Regions from separate parts of the Homo sapiens genome. Here regions 2 and 3 are each linked to region 1. The links come from fine-mapping of genetic effects on gene expression. A gene starts in region 1. Each other region holds a variant in brackets. All regions are shown on one strand. Distances are between the middles of the regions.

Region 1 (5,440 bases):
ACAACAACAACACTTTATTTTACCTTGAGCTTTAAACTGAAGAGTTTCGCTTACAGCCTCACCACTGGCATCCATGTGATATCGTTTGGCTTTTTCTTGTAATACAGCATCAAAAGTCTCCTGTGTAATTCGTCTGGCTGCCATGTTATTTTGCCCTATGGTGAGAGAGAAAAAAATACACTAAGAGCAACAACTTGGAGCTGGGCGCGGTGGCTCATACCTGTAATCCTGGCACTTTGGGAGGTCGAGGTGGGCGGATCACCTGAGCTCAGGAGTTCGAGACCAGCCTAGGCAACATGATGAAACTAAAATACAAAAAATTCAGGCTGGGTGTGGTGGCTCACACCTGTAATCCCAGGACTTTGGGAGGCTGAGGTGAGCGGATCATTTAAAGTCAGGAGTTGGAGACCAGCCTGGCCAACATGGCAAAACCCTGTCTCTACTAAAAATACAAAAATTAGCCGGGCATGGTGGTGCCTGCCTTTAATCCCAGCTACTTGGGAGGCTGTGGCAAGAGAATTGCTTGAACCCAGGAGGCGGAGGTTGCAGTGGGCCGAGATCATGCCACTGCACTCCAGCATGGGTAACAGAGTGAGACTCCGTCTCAAAAAAAAAAAAAAAAAAATTTCACCAGGCATGGTGGCACGTGCCTGTAATCCCAAATACTCAGGAGGCTGAGGCATGGGAATTGCTTGAACCAGGGAGACAGAGGTTGCAGTGAGCCGAGATCATGCCACTGCCCTCCAGACTGGGGGACAGAGCGAGACTGTCTCAAAGAAAAAAAAAATGCGTGCTCACAGAACCTGCTCTATTTCACTTAATCCTCGAAGTAAGGAGGCAGTAATCCATAATCCTCGCATGGTACTTCAGAGGCAAGCTGGACCCTTTTTATTTATCTTTTTTTTTTTTTTTTTTAAGTAGAGACAGGGTTTTGCTAGGTTGGCCAGGCTGGTCTCGAACTCCTGACCTCAAGCAATCTGCCCACCTTGTCTGGACTCTTTTAAGGGGGTCTCTGCCCTCACGAAGTTCACAGGTGTGTGCTGGCTGAAAAGGAGCAAGACAAACCTTCTCTGGGCCCATCTCCTTGGAATCCATTAAAAGCAGCTCTGTGAAAGCAGTTCTATCTGCTGGAGGAAGGTGTCAACCAACACACATAACTGAGCATAACAGAGTAGGAAGGGTGGGACCACAACCCTCGCAAATCGTGGTTAGGAAAGAAGAGATCAATCTTTTTTTTTTTTTTCTTCCTTTTTTTGAGACTCTCCCTGTTGCCCAGGCTGGAGTGCAGTGGCATGATCTCGGCTAACTGCAACCTCCGCCTCCTGGACTCAAGCAATTCTCCTGCCTCAGCCTCCTGAGTAGCTGGGATTACAGGAGTCCGCCACCGCATCCGACTAATTTTTATATTTTAGGTAGAGATGGAGTTTCACCATGTTGGCCAGGCTGGTCTTGAATTCCTGACCTCAAGTGATTCGCCCGCTTCGGCCTCCCAAAGTGCTGGGATTCCAGGCCGTGAGCCACTGCGCCTGGCCCAGGATCACTCTTTTCCCATTCACAGACTCAGCAGGGCACAGAGGCTCTGAGAACTTCCTTCCCTTCTAAAAGAAGCCTCTTGACAGTGAGTGGCGGGACCCCCAACCAATGACAATGAACTAGTGACAGTTCATTCTGCGCTGGGTCCTTGCGCGATCTCCCAACCACCCACTGAAGAGGCGGGTCCTGTTATGAATGACATTAGGGTGAGGAGGCAAAGGGAGACAGACTCAACGACCCATTCAAGACCAGACAGCCCAGATTTGAACCTGGCAAAAAGGGTATTCGTGCATCCAAAGCCCCGAAGAATGAGTAAAAAGATTAAGCAACATTTTGGGGTCCAGGGGCTGCATCCTTAACCATCAAGATATCCCGCTTCGCAAAACCTCCAACTTCAAGAGACAACCCGTAGGGTCCATTTCCCATCACGATCACCGCCTCCCCCACCCGCCTCCCCCAGTCCCATCCTTCAGCCCTTTTCCCGGGGCGCCCCCTTGTTCTCTGCTGGCAAAGGGCAGGGTTCCCGGGTCAGGTGACCCAGGTTCAAATCACACGATTCTAAGCTTTCTGTGCTTCCGTTTCCCCACCTATGGAATGGGCAGCCAGTAAAGGGGCTGGTGTGGGGGCTGAACCGGTTCTAAAGAGGGCAAGGGCCCGATGCAGCGCTGGGCGCCGTTATCTCCTCCCGAGCGGGGGCCGCTCCGAGTTCGGGAGGAATGAATGAACGACTGAACCAATGAGCCTTTGTGGACGCGGCCCGCCGTCTCCCGGCCTCTGCGGGCGAGGAAATGGGGGCGCCGGGCCCGGGAGGCCGCAGCCGGCCACCCAGGCCAACCCGGCGGGGACGCGGCCGCCGCCGCAGCCAGAGGGCCGAGCCTGCGACGCCATCACGGAGCCCGGGGCGGGCCCCCAAGGCCGAGCCCGAGCTTCCCACCCCGGGAGCCACCCACCGACGACGCCAGGGCCCGGGCCTCACCCCGAGACCACCGCGCGCGGAGCCACCCCCGCCGCCGCCTCAGGCTCCTCACCCGCCGCCGCCGCCGCGCGAGGCGGGGACATGCAAATGAACCAACGGTCTCCGCAGCGCCGCGCCGCGCAGGCGCAAGCCGCCGCCGAGTCCTGGTGCGCAGGCGCGGGCCGCCGCGGCCCGGCTCTCTTGCGCAAGCGCGCTGTCCGCTTCTTCTGGGCGGACGCTCTGGAGGCAAAACATTTCCCTGCTGGGGGCGGCGACCACCGTGAGCGTCCCGGAAGGGGCGGCAAAGACGCCTCCGTCGCGCACGAGGTGGCCTCGTTGGCTTTACCTTGGTTCGCGGTCGTCCTTGGTTATCGTGAGCGTCCGCGAGTCTCTGGGAGGCCAAGCCTAGGGGCGCCACAGCGCCTGCGCGCGTACGGCGGCCGGAAGGGGCTAGAGGCGGCTCCCTGGGTGACAACCGCGCGCCCCACCTTTCCCCACGTGGCCGCGAAGACCGGGTGAGACGCTGCGGCTGCCGAGGCCTGTCCCGCGCGGAGTGGGGAGTGGGGGTGCCGCAGGGTCGGGCTGGCGCGACCCTCGGGTACGTGGTTTGGGGGGAAAAAAAAAATGAAAGAATTTTACAGAAGCCGCCTGGGGACAAAATCCTCGGCTTCCCTGGCATTCGCTTTATTTTCATTCATTTTATTTATTCATTCAGCACCTGTGCACTGAGTGCCTGCTGCGTGTCGGGCCCCGTCCTAGGCAGTGGGGACAAGGAGGCTACAGGGTACAAATAAATGAGTGAACGATGTTGCTCTAGATACAGGTAATGGTGTGCAAATAATAACAGAGTGATGGGACGGGAAAGCAGGGCTGCTCTTTATCTAGAAGTGGTTTTGAAGGCTGTCTCTTGAGTGCTGGGAAGGATGAGAAAGGCGGGGAAGAGGAACTTGGAAGGCTTAGATAGAGAAGGTGCGGATAAGGAGGCTGGGTTTTGTTCTGAGAGGGTTGGGAAGCCACTACCGGGCTTTGAGCACGTGAGTGAGGTGGAGTCTAGGCTCTGGGAGTGGCAGGTGACGCCGCCCTTAGGGGAGGCTGGTGTTTGAACCAGAGTGGGTGTGGCTGGTAGAGGGACATGTGGATGGAGTCTTTTAGAGTCCCCAGCATGTCATGGCACACGTTTAATTTTCTTTTGAGACGGAGTCTTTCTCTGTCGCCCAGGCTAGAGTGTAGTGGCATGATCTTGACTCACTGCAACCTCCACCTCCCGGGTTCAAGGGCTTCCCCTGCCTCAGCCTCCCGAGTAGCTGGGACTACAGGTGCGCAACACCGCACCTGGCTAAATTTTGTATTTTTTTTTTTTTTGAAACGGAGTCAAAAGGAGTTCAAGCGATCTCCTGCCTCAGCCTCCTGAGTAGCTGGGATTACCGGTGTGCACTATCTTGCCTGGCCTTTTTTTTTTTTTTTGAGACGGAGTCTCGTTCTGTCACCCAGGCTGGAGTGCAGTGGCGCAATCTCAGCTCACTGCAAGCTCCGTCTCCTGGGTTCAGGCCATTCTCCTGCCTCAGCCTCCCGAGTAGCTGGAAATACAGGCACCCGCCACCACGCCCGGCTAGTTTTTTTGTATTTTTTTAGTAGAGACGGGGTTTCACCGTGTTAGCCAGGATGGTCTTGATCTCCTGACCTCATGATCCGCCCGCTTCGGCCTCCCAAAGTGCTGGGATTACAGGCGTGAGCCACCGTGCCCGGCCCTGGCTAATTTTTTGTATTTTCAGTAGAGACAGGATTTTGCTATGTTGGCCAGGCTGTTCTCAAACTCCTGACCTCAAGTGATCTACCCGCCTCAGACTCCCAAAGCGCTGGGATTATAGGCCTGAGCCACCGCACCTGGACAGCACAGTTTTCTTGATGAGCAGATTCCTGGCTGAGAGAAGGAAACTGGCTGCCAGTTAGGGGCCTTACTCATCTTCTGTTTTACCCTCAGCATGCCCTGATGGATAATAGGGACTGGTAATGCTGCTTCCCCCTTTTAGCCTAGGCTGTTCTCCAGGTAATTCTTACTTGGCCATCTCCAGGCACCATCTTATGTGTTCCAAATCTGTACTTTCCTCCTCCAACTCAGCCCTGTACCAGATCTAGGGGACCTTGGAGGACTCAGGTCAGGGGTGGTCACAGAGCCAGACCTTCCCAACTCAGTCAGCTCAGGGGTGGGTGGAAGGGAGGGGTTGTGGGTTGGGGAGTGAAGCCAGAGAGTGTGGGCTCTCTGAGTGGCCAGGAAAGGCAGCCACCTGGAAGGGCTGGCAGAAGCTCCACAGAGGACTGAGAATCCGAAGTATTTGAGACAGGTGTCAATCAGTTAGAAAGCTTATTTTGCCAAGGTTAAGGACATGTCTGTGACACAGCCTCAGGAGGTCCTGACAACATGTACCCAAGGTGGTTGGGGCACAGCTTGCTTTTATACATTTTAGGGAGACGTGAGATATAAATGAATATGTGTAAGATGGTCACAGGTAGAGACAAATGATTGCTTTCTTTTGAGTCTTTGGTCAGCCTTTCACAGAATACACGATTTATATGGGGTACAGGGCAGGTAGAGGAATAGTCATTTATGCCTCAGTCCGACTCATGAATCTGAGGTTTTGTTTCTTGTTTTTTGTTTTATTTTTTGAGATAGAGTCTCGCTCTGTCGCCCAGGCTGGAGTGCAATGGCGCAATCTTGGCTCACTGCAACCTCCACCTCCCGGGTTCAAGCAATTCTCTTGCCTCAGCCTCCTGAGTAGCTAGGATTACAGGCGCCCACTACCACGCCCAGTTAATTTTTATATTTTTAGTAGAGACGGGGTTTCGCCATGTTGGTCAGGCTGGTCTCGAATTCCTGACCTCAGGTGATCCACCGGTGTCAGCCTCCCAAAATGCTGGGATTACAGGCATGAGCCACGGAGCCAGGCCAAATCT
Region 2 (5,440 bases), 40 kb before region 1:
AGCCATGGAGACCCCAGCACACTGCATTTCCTCTACATTTATTGCAACGGCTAAATGATTAACAACATTCACAACTTCTTAGATCTTAAAAAACAGAAACAAAAGAAAACTTCCATTTTGTAACATCACAAATGTCTTCTAGGCTTTATCAAGGACCAAAAACACTACAATTCTCTAAGTGATTTCCAGTGATGGAAACAAGCCAGAGACAGTAAAGCACCCAGAGTGGCGAGAGAGCACTTCCAGATGCCTGTTGTCCTCTCGGGGGTGACCCTGGAACTAGAACGACAGAAAAGACACTGTGACTTTGACACGGCTGTGCCACCACACATCACGCGCGACACGAGGATCCTGCAGAGCGGCCTCTGCAGAGAGCAAGGACAGCCTCGGTTAAGAGGGAGGGGCTGGGGGCACGGAGGGCCAGTGGCATCTCCTCTATCCCGGCTGGCCGGCAGCTGGCAGCACGCACCATGCTCTGCTGGCTCCCGACACCTTCACTGCCCCAGCGCTGAATCCACAGGAGAGGTGTCCTCTGAGAGTGTAGGGGGCTTTCTAGGTTCAAGGAGATGTGCCCTTTGACCCCTGCCAAGGACTCACAGAACCATCTCAGCTCAAACTTGGAGGAGCGGCAGGAGGTGGGGGGCGGTCAGTGGCCACACGCCACAGATTCCTAAAGCATTTAACTTTTTAATAAAATGAAGTGGAGAAAGTCAAGAATGAACATGCTAGGACAAAGCACATGGAATGGTCAGGGCGATGCTGGAGAGAGTGCGCTTGATCCACGCTGCAGGTGTGTGCGCCTCGCTCGGGTCAATGGGCTGAGCCCCGCTTGGAGCTCCATCCATTCACCTGACCCATGGCCAACATGGAAGCTGTCGGAGGGGTCAGGAAAGGAGAAGGAGAAAGGAGAAGATGAACCCCCCGCACCTGTGACTCCCCAAAACCAGCTCCACTCCAGGCCCCCACAGGCTGGTTCGTTCGAGGGTTGGGTTATAAACCCAAACTCCATCCTCCATGCTGGCACCTCTACTGCCATAAAGATCTGCCAGTTGCCAAAGCTACAGAAGCCACTGGAAGCAAGCAGAGCCCCTGGGGGTGGTGGCACTGCAAGGTGACAGGGACCAGGCAGACAAGGAGCTGGGACCACAGCCTAGGAAGTCTGTGGCTTAAAGAAAGCCAGGATTTCCTTTTTTTTTTTTGAGACAGAGTCTCGCTCTGTTGCCAGGCTGGAGTGCGGTGGCACAATCTCGGCTCACTGCAACCTCCGCCTCCCGGGTTCAAGTGATTCTCCTGCCTCAGCCTCCTGAGTAGCTGGGACTACAAGCGCCCGCCACCACGCCCAGCTAATTTTTTGCATTTTTAGTAGAGACAGGGTTTCACCATGTTGGCCAGGATGGTCTCGATCTCTTGACCTCGTGATCCACCTGCCTCGGCCTCCCAAAGTGCTGGAATTATAGGCGTGAGTCACCGTGCCGGCCTTTTTTTTTTTTTTTTTTGGAGATGGAGTCTTGCTCTGTCGCCCAGGCTGGAGTGGAGTGGCATGATCTCAGCTCACTGCAACCTCTGCCTCCCCGGTTCAAGTGATTCTCCTGCCTCAGCCTCCTGAGTAGCTGGGATTACAGGTGCCCGCTACCACGCCTGGCTAATTTTTTTGTATTTTTAGTAGAGACGGGGTTACACCATGTTGGCCAGGCTGGTCTCAAACTCCTGACCTCAGGTGATCCATCCGCCTCAACCTCCTAAAGTGCTGGGATTACAGGCTTGAGCCACTGTGCCTGGCCCAAAGCCAGGATTTCTTTACAGCCAATACAAGTGGCATTTCCCGCTCAGTTCTGTGGCTGATGCCCTAGCCACTGCTGTGTCCCCTAATCCTGGGGTGTCAGAGGGATCCTAAGTTTTCCAGATTTTTGCCCATACTTAAAACTTCAACGATCCTGCTTCACAAGGAAGGATGAGTGGAGAATTGAGTGGAGTTACACGCAGCAGAGTGCTGGGGAATCTGGAGAGCGGGGGCGATCACATGCCTGGAAATAGAGCAGCTGCAGAGCCCACCCCAGGAGGAGCCTGCCTCTCCTTACAAAGGCTGTAATAAGACAGCACTTGACGATGCCATACGTGCGAAAAGTGCAGAGTCTCAGAGGGTTTACAACCCCCATCCCTTTGTAACTGTAGTTTGCTTACACTGTGGATTCTAAAGAGACATGTAAATCTGGGGCCGATTTCATCTGTTTAATGATTACTCCCCACCCGATAGAGCTATTCTATACTGTTGCTAAAATTTCATTAAGTCTCTCAAGATGCATTGATGAGATGAGACACCATGAATAACACATTCATCAACTCAAGTATGGCAACTGTTCAGAGAGCTTCAGAGCTTTGGTACCCGAGTGCAGACTTGGTAATTACCGGGAATTTGTCTCCCCCGTATAAATTCTGGCGAACAACGAGAAAACACCATCTGTGATCGTTTCCACATCACGTTTGCTAACAGAGCACTTCTGGAGAGCAATGGCCAGTCCAACTGGAAAATCAGCCAGAGGAGCTGGTTCCTCAGCACTCACAGGCTGAGGTGCCTTTCGGGGGCAGCGCCACCTTCTGAAGGGGAACCAAGACAGATTTGGAGGGGACTTGCTGCTAAAAGCATGTGAACAGAGAGGAGAGGCAAAAGCACATTGAAAATGGTGCATGTTTTTTTCTTTGAGAGAAAGAAAAGCCAGCGAAACCTCCGCCCCAGAGACTGCAGAGACGTTTGTTTTCATGTACACACCAAACCGTACTTGGGCACTGGCTCCAGGCCGATCCAGGGCAGGGATGATGTTTTAAGGGCAATTGCTGCTTCAAGGCTTATCTTTCACATCAGTGGTTTTGATCTATTCAGGAAGAGAACGATTTTGTTCAAAACTGAGGTGGAAATTAGGTGAGGGGGCAACTAAAAAAAAAAAAGAATAGAAAGATGAGGATATTTACAGGCCCAAGGCCCTGCAGAAGGAAAAGGATTTGAAGACCCTCACAAAGGGACACAGCCAACTGCCATCCTCTGTGGCAGTGGCTGTCACAGTCGCCCTTCCACTTGCATGATGGCAAGGCCCTCTGGACTAGGAACAGTCCGTTTGCTGGTCATGTTATGTGGTAGGTGGCTGTCATCTGTGAGAGAAAACTTGAG[C/A]AAGAGAAGAGACAGGCGTGGCCTATTTCCACACGCACATCCACGGAGGCTGGCCTGGAGGCCTTGAGGGGCTCACAGCCGGGGCACCAGGCAGGCCATGCGCATCTGCCCTTGGCCAGTGTGAGGTTTGCTCCTTCAGCAAACCTGGAAGGTAAGAATGGGGCATATCCACATCCATAGACCCTTTTGTTTCCCTCACAGAATTTTGTGATTTTTTTTGTGTGTGGCATTTTTGGGGGAGCAGGGAACATCAACTTTGTTGGGGGAAATTTCTCTGCATACCAGCACGCCAGCGAGGGCAGACGGCCTTACACACTGGCCTGTGAACATACCTATTTGTTGGCCCGCTTGTGTCTGTACATCTGCATCATCCTCTGTCGGAACACATCGAATGTGTCTTCTTTGTGCTCCTGCCCGTCAGCACCCAACCCTTCCCCTTCCGAGGGGGTTCCCCTAGGGAGTGAAAAAGAGAGTCAGTTGTGCACCTGAGCCCAGGGCCTGGCATGCCAGGAACTGGGCATGGGCACAAACAGTCCATGAGATGCAGGTGTTTGGGACACACACTGAGACATCAAAGAAAGGGAAAATCAAGACGCGACTCACAGTAGAAACAAGGAGTACTCACCCTCGAAGAGCTGGCTTTTGAGGGGGTGCCCAGAGGGCCCTGGTTACCTCGGAATGCCTTACCCAGCAGGAACTAAGCTCAGTATTAAATGAAATGCCTGCTGGAGGTTATGATCGGGGTTTAATAAACTTTGGGCCTGTGTTCGGGACCCTGGCTGGCCCGGCTATGGGTTCCCGGGAATGGGAAAGCAGTTCCAGACGGAAACTACACAGAAATACCACTTAGCTTTTATGATGGTCACAAATGTGGCCAAAATGACCAGGGCCAACAAGCTGGTTAAAAAATCTACACCAGGACAGAAAGGAGCCCTGTAAACACCTGCACATGTAAATGATCAGCTTCTCATCTGAAGATGCCTTCTGTTTAAAAAACAAAAATCAACTGCCAGCTGTAAGCCATCTTGGCTGTGAAGGAGCCAAGCGGCAGGCTGCAGGTGGAAGGACTGAGGCCCCACCCACTCCCACCCCAGGCTGCCTGCTGCGTACACGCTGACCGGCTCCCTGATGCCCTTTCCGAGGGAGCCCAGGCCATGGCCCTCCTTCCAGCCCATCTTCTGCAGCATCTGGAAGCCCAGGTTCTTATCGGTCAGCTTCTGCTGGGCGAAGTCCAAGTCCTTGGGTTTCTGAGGAGAGAGGAGAGTCCAGGCATGTGGGCCACAGGGAGATGCCTGGATCAAGGGTCTGTCCTAGGCTATGCCTGGAGCCCCTCACCCCCAAATGCCCTCCTGACTCCCCAGATGCTCAGGCTCAAGCTCCAGTCACTTCCCCAGTTCTCTGCAACATCCCTGGGTGGGATGGAACTTCTAAGTCAGAGGTCACTGGCCTGAGGTCAGTCGTGCCTCTCAGCTACCACTATAACCCTGGTGCCAAGACTGTGAGGAAAACTGGGTAAGGGAATGGCCAGTCCCGGGGTCAAGGAGTCAGTAGGAAGGCCCTCAGCGGAACCCTGGATAAAGAAGGGTGGCCCTGTGATGACCACAGGGCGCAGCCCAGGGAAGAGTGGGGGGCACCAGGGCACAGGCCTGCAGGCAGGATGGGGGCCAGACAGTGGGTGAGAACTGGCTGGCAGCACCCTCCCTGAACCACCCCAACATACCCCTCCCCGAGTGCTTCATTCACTCCCTGGCTGCATTGTCTGTCTGTCCTCAGGACTGAGTTCTACTTGGACATTGGGGTCTGTGTCTAGCACAGAGCAGACCTCACTGAGAGCTAGTACAGCTGTTGATTGCTCCTGTGGGTGGTGGGGAAGTGCAGCAATCTCTGGGCCACTAGATGGAGATCTGGAGACAGACAGGGCCCTGGGGCCTCTGGAGGAGGAGCCTGCAGGGCTGTAGCAGAAGGAATTTCTATTCACTCATGAATATTCATGACACACTGCTGTGTGACAGAGCCCAGCTGGGCAGTCCAAGACCTTGCCATGTATTCCTTGGCTCTTCACGAGTCAACTTGTGTGGGTGGGCTGGGCGTGGTGGCTCATGCCTGTAATCTCAGCAGTTTGGGAGGCCGAGGTGGGTGGATCACTGGAGGTCAGGAGTTCCAGACCAGCCTGGCCAACGTGGCAAAACCCCGTCTCTACTAAAATACAAAAATTAGCCAGGCATGGTGGCAGGCACCTGTAATCCCAGCTACTTGTGAGGCGGAGGCATGAGAATC
Region 3 (5,440 bases), 730 kb after region 1:
ATACAATCAACTGATCTTCAACAAGGGTGCCAAAAATACACAACAGAGAAATGAGAGTCTTTTAAGTAAATAGTGCTGGAAAAATTGGATCTCTATATGCAAAAGGATAAATGTGGACTCTTACTTCATACCATATTAAAAATTAACTTAAAATGGATTAAATATTTAAACATAAGACCTGAAAACATAAAATGGCTAGAAAAAAAATATGGAAAAATTTTCAGAACTTTGGACATTGAGATGCTTTTTTTTAAATTAGACTTCAAAAGAACAGGCAACAGGCCGGGTGTGGTGGCTCACACCTATAATCCCAGCATTTTGGGAGGCTGAGGCAGGCGGATCACCTGAGGTCAGGAGTTGGAGACCAGTCTGGCCAACATGGCAAAACCCCATCTCTACTAAATCTATTTTAAAGATTATTTGGGTGTGGTGGTGCACTCCTGTAGTTCTGGCTACTCAGGAGGCTGAGGCAGAACTGCTTGAACCTGGGAGGCAGAGGTTGCAGTGAGCCAAAATTGCATCACTGCACTCTAGCCTGGGCAACAGAATGAGACCCTGTCTCAAAAAAACAAAATAGTAAGACAAAGAACAGGCAATAAAATCAGGACAGACAAGTGGGACTACCTCGAATAGAAAAACTTCTGAACAAAGGACAAATTCAACAAATGAAAAGGCAACTTAAGGAATGAGAAAAAAATAGTTGCCAATAATATATCTGATAAAGGGTTAATATCCAAAAATACAAGGAATTTCTACAACTCAATAGCAAACCCCAAATAACAAGATTAATAAATGAGTAATGACCTAAATAAACATTTCTCCAAAGAAGACATAAGAATGGCCACAGGTATATTTTAAAAAATGCTCCGTGTCATTAAATGTCAGTCAAATGCAAATTTAAGTCACAGTGAGGCATCACCTCACTCTTGTGAGGACAGGTATATTAAAAACAAACAAGCGTGCTAAAGTTATGAAGATACTGGAACTTTTGTACACAGCTGGCAGGAATTAAAATTGGCAGCAACAATGGAAAACAACATACAGTTGTCTCAAAAAGTTAAAAACAGAATTATAGGTCGGGTGTGGTGGCTCATGCCTGTAATCCCAGCACTTTGGGAGGCCGAGGTGGGAGGATCACTTGAGGTCAGGAGTTCAAAACCAGCCTGGCCAACATGGTGAAACCCTGTCTCTACTAAAAATACAAAAAAAAAGTAGCTGTGAGTGGTGGTGCGCACCTGTAATCCCAGCTACTCGGGAGGCTGAGACAGGAGAATTGCTTGAACCCGGGAGGCAGAGGTTGCAGTGAGCTGAGATCGCACCACTGCACTAAAGCCTGAGTGACAGAGTGAGACTCCGTCTCGAAAAAAAAAAAAATTACAGTTTGATTCATTAAACTCAATTCTGGGGATACATCCAAAGGGAATATAATTTGGATCTTGAAGAGCTACATAGTTCTGTGTCTATTACAGCATTATTCACAATAGCCAAGATATGGAAGCCACCTAAATGTCCATGAAGGATACATGAATGTGTCAAGTAAAGGTAGTATATACATGCAATAGAATATTAGCCTTAAAAAGGGAGTAAATCTTTTCTTTTCTTTTTTTTTTGAGATGGAGTCTCTGTCACCCAGGCTGGAGTGCAGTGGCGCGATCCTGGCTTACTGCAACCTCTGCCTCCTGGGTTCACACCATTCTCCTGCCTCAGCCTCCCGAGTAGCTGGGACTACAGGCGCCCACCACCATGCCTGGCTAATCTTTTGTATTTTTAGTAGAGACGGGGTTTCACCGTGTTAGCCAGAATGGTCTCGATCTCCCAAACTCAGCTGATCAGCCTGCCTCGGCCTCCCAAAGTGCTGGGATTACAGGCGTGAGCCACCGCGCCCGGCCAGTAAATCTTTTCATTTGTGACAACATGAATGTACCTGAAGGATACTAAGGTACACATTAAGGCACGATTGAAAGAAGCCAGACATAGAAAGACAAATACATCATGATCTCACATACATGTGAAATATGAAGTAATTATACGTGTAGAGGCAGAGAGTAGAATGGTGTTTTCCAGAAGCTGAGCTGAAAGAAAAACGGGGGTTGGGGGGATACAAAGTTTCAGTTACCCAAAATGAACAAACTGGTCTGGATAGTGGTTTTTTTTTTTTTTTTTTTTAGTAAAACCATAAAAGCTCAGGCAACGAAAACAAAAACAAATGGGGTTATATCAACCCAAAATGCTTCTGCATAG[CAA/C]AAAAAAAAAAAAAAAAAAAAAAAAAATTAACAAGGTAAAGAGAAAAGCTACAGAATGGCAGAAAGTATTTTCAAAATACCCACCCAATAAGGTATTAATAACCAGAATATACAAAGAACTCAAATGACTTAATAGCAAAAAACAAACAAAAAAAGAATCTAAATTTAAAATGGGAAAGGATCTAACCAGATACTTCTCAGCCAGGTGCAGTGGCTCACGCCTATAATCCCAACACTCTGGGAAGCTGAGGCGGGTGGATCACTGGAGCTCAGGAGGTCAAGACCAGCCTGGGCATCATTTTTTGTAGAGGTGAAATACCACCTCTACAAAAAATTCGCTGGGTATGGTGGTGCACACCTATAGTCCCAGCAACTTGGGAGTCTGGGATGGGAGGATGGCTTGAGCCTGGGGAGGTTGAGGCTGCAGTGAGCTGTGATTATGCCACTGCACTCTAGCGTTGGTGACAGAGAGACACTGTCTCAAAAAAACCCCAAAAAACAAAAAGCAAACCCAACAACAGACTCCTGTCTTCAGCCAAAAAGACCAGGAAAGACACCTTATCAAACAAAACTTTTATCCAATGTGCCTTCTATGCTGGGATAAAATGAGGGTAGATACAATAGGCTTTCTTTCCCTTTTGTGTTTTATAAATTGTATTTGAATATCAAGGAACAATTGAAACATTGTTAACTACGATAATTTCTGAATATAATGTAATACGTTGATCTAACACTAAAAAAGCTATACTCAAAAACACTACAAATAAATGAAATTTTAAAACATGTTCAAATTATCTACATGAAGAAAGTAAAAATCACACAGAGGAACAAAACAGAGAGAACAAACAGAAAACAACGTATCAGGCTAGTTTTAACAAAATTAACTTAACTGTTAAATGTTCTGAATTAACCAAGTAGATCTCCGCTGACACACAACAAAAACATGCTGGCCAAAGTGGATGAGGTGAAGTTCACAATCAACACCCAAATGAAGAAGGTGCTATGTCTGGCTGTGGCTGTCAGCCACGTGAAGATGACAGACGATGTTACACACAGACGATGTGTGTAACATTCACCTGGCTGTAAACTTCCTGATGTCACTGCTCACGGAAAACCGGCAGAATGTCCGGCCCTTATATAACAAGAGCACCACCGGCAAGCCCTAGCACCTGTATTAAGGCACATTTGAATAAATTCTACTGCCACCAGTCAAAAATAAATAAATAAAATAAAATAATCAATTAGAGACAAAGATTGAAAACATTGATTTTTTTTTTTTTTTTGAGACGGAATCTCCTCTGTCGCCCAGGCTGGAGTGCAGTGGCGAGATCTTGGCTTACTGCAAGCTCCGCCTCCCAGGTTCACGCCATTCTCCTGCCTCAGCCTCCCGAGTAGCTGGCACTACAGGTGCCCGCCACCACGCCCGGCTATTTTTTATGTATTTTTAGTAGAGACGGGGTTTCACCGTGTTAGCCAGGATGGTCTCGATCTTCTGACTTCGTGATCCGCACGCCTCAGCCTCCCAAAGTGCTGGGATTACAGGCGTGAGCCACTGTTCCCGGCCTGACAACACTGATTAATAAATATGACCATGCATATTCTCTTTAGAAGAAACTCACTTCCAATATAAAAAGGTAAATTTAGAATAAGCCCTCTCCCTCTCCCCCTCCCCCTCCCTCTCCCCTTTGCACGGTCCTCGTCTCCCCTTTGCACAGTCTCCCTCTGATGCGGAGCCGAGGCTGGACGGTACTGCCGCCATCTCGGCTCACTGCAGCCTCCCTGCCTGATTCTCCTGCCTCAGCCTGCCGAGTGCCTGCGATTGCAGGCGCGCGCCGCCACACCTGATGGTTTTCGTATTTTTTGGTGGAGACGGGGTTTCGCCGTGTTGGCCGGGCTGGTCTCCAGCTCCTGACTGCGAGTGGTCTGCCACCCTCGGCCTCCCGAGGTGCCGGGATTGCAGACGGGGTCTCGCTCACTCAGTGCTCAATGTTGCCCAGGCTGGAGTGCAGTGGCGTGATCTCGGATCGCTACAACCTCCACCTCCCAACTGCCTGCCTTGGCCTCCCAAAGTGCCGAGATTGCAGCCTCTGCCCGGCCGCCACCCCGTCTAGGAAGTGAGGAGCGTCTCTGCCTGGCCGCCCATCGTCTGGGATGTGAGGAGCCCCTCTGCCCGGCCGCCCAGTCTGGGAAGTGAGGAGTGCCTCTTCCCGGCCATCATCCCGTCTAGGAAGTGAGGAGCGTCTCTGTCTGGCCGCCCATCATCTGGGATGTGGGGAGCACCTCTGCCCTGCCGCCCCATCTGAGATGTGAAGAGTGCCTCTGCCCGGCCGCGACCCCGTCTGGGAACTGAGGAGTGTCTCTGCCCCGCCGCCACCCCATCTGGGAGGTGAGGAGCGTCCCTGCCCGGCCGCCCCGTCTGAGAAGTGAGGAGCCCCTCCGCCCGGCAGCCGCCCCATCTGGGAAGTGGGGGGCAGCTCCCGTCCGGCCAGCCGCCCCGTCCGGGAGGTGTACCCAACAGCTCATTGAGAACGGGCCATGATGACAATGGCGGTTTTGTCGAATAGAAAAGGGGGAAATGTGGGGAAAAGAAAGAGAGATCAGATTGTTATTGTGTTTGTGTAGAAAGAAGTAGACATAGGAGACTCCATTTTGTTCTGTACTAGGAAAAATTCTTCTGCCTTGGGATGCTGTTAATCTATAACCTTACCCCCAACCCCGTGCTCTCTGAAACAGGTGCTGTGTCCACTAAGGGTTAAATGGATTAAGGGCGGTGCAAGTTGTGCTTTGTTAAACAGATGCTTGAAGGCAGCATGCTCTAAGAATCATCACCACTCCCTAATCTCAACTACCCAGGGACACAAACACTGTGGAAGGCGGCAGGGCCCTCTGCCTAGGAAAACCAGAGACCTTTGTTCACTTGTTTATCTGCTGACCTTCCCTCCACTATTGTCCTATGACCCTGCCAAATCCCCCTCTCCGAGAAACACTCAAGAATGATCAATAAATACTAAAAAAAAAAAAAAAAAAAAAAAAAAAAAGCAGAATAAAATCAGAAAAAAAAAGGTAAATTTAAAGTATAAGAAGCTGGGCAAGGCGTGGTGGCTCACTCACGCCTGTAATCCCAGCACTTTGGGAGGCTGGGGTGGGCGAATCACTTGAGGTCAGGAGTTCAAGACCAGCCTGGCCAACATAGTGAA

Direction of the effects. Positions count from the first base shown, and alleles are read on the strand shown. Sizes are in standard deviations (SD) of each study's normalised expression. Not every link is listed here.
For the expression in lymphoblastoid cells of the gene that starts at base 2,590 in region 1, allele CAA in region 3 goes with a lower level than allele C (large effect, 0.79 SD a copy in TwinsUK).

The links. PIP is the estimated chance that this variant, and not a neighbour inherited with it, causes the effect.
Region 2: its variant is the best candidate, but not a certain one, in a credible set for the expression of SUGP2 in unexposed skin (GTEx, PIP 0.76).
Region 3: its variant is the best candidate, but not a certain one, in a credible set for the expression of SUGP2 in lymphoblastoid cells (TwinsUK, PIP 0.81).

What each region holds. Positions count from the first base shown.
Region 1 is chr19:19,030,928-19,036,367 of GRCh38, forward strand. SUGP2 (SURP and G-patch domain containing 2) reads right to left here and starts at 2,590. Exons shown (of 11, transcript NM_001017392.5): 1 at 2,510-2,590; 2 at 24-155. The coding sequence starts at 144. ARMC6 (armadillo repeat containing 6) reads left to right here and starts at 2,676. Exons shown (of 9, transcript NM_001199196.2): 1 at 2,676-3,003; 2 at 3,204-3,311. The coding sequence starts at 3,283. RefSeq lists an enhancer at 1,322-1,823 and silencers at 1,750-1,829, 2,250-2,679.
Region 2 is chr19:18,990,871-18,996,310 of GRCh38, forward strand. SUGP2 (SURP and G-patch domain containing 2) reads right to left here. Exons shown (of 11, transcript NM_001017392.5): 9 at 4,274-4,410; 10 at 3,496-3,616; 11 at 23-2,870. The coding sequence ends at 3,496. Among named protein-coding and RNA genes, the nearest start is that of SUGP2, 40 kb to the right of the region's middle. The variant C/A (reference allele first, on the strand shown) is at 3,164.
Region 3 is chr19:19,765,569-19,771,008 of GRCh38, forward strand. All of the region lies in intron 1 of LINC00663 (long intergenic non-protein coding RNA 663), which reads right to left. Among named protein-coding and RNA genes, the nearest start is that of LINC00663, 8.1 kb to the right of the region's middle. The variant CAA/C (reference allele first, on the strand shown) is at 2,242.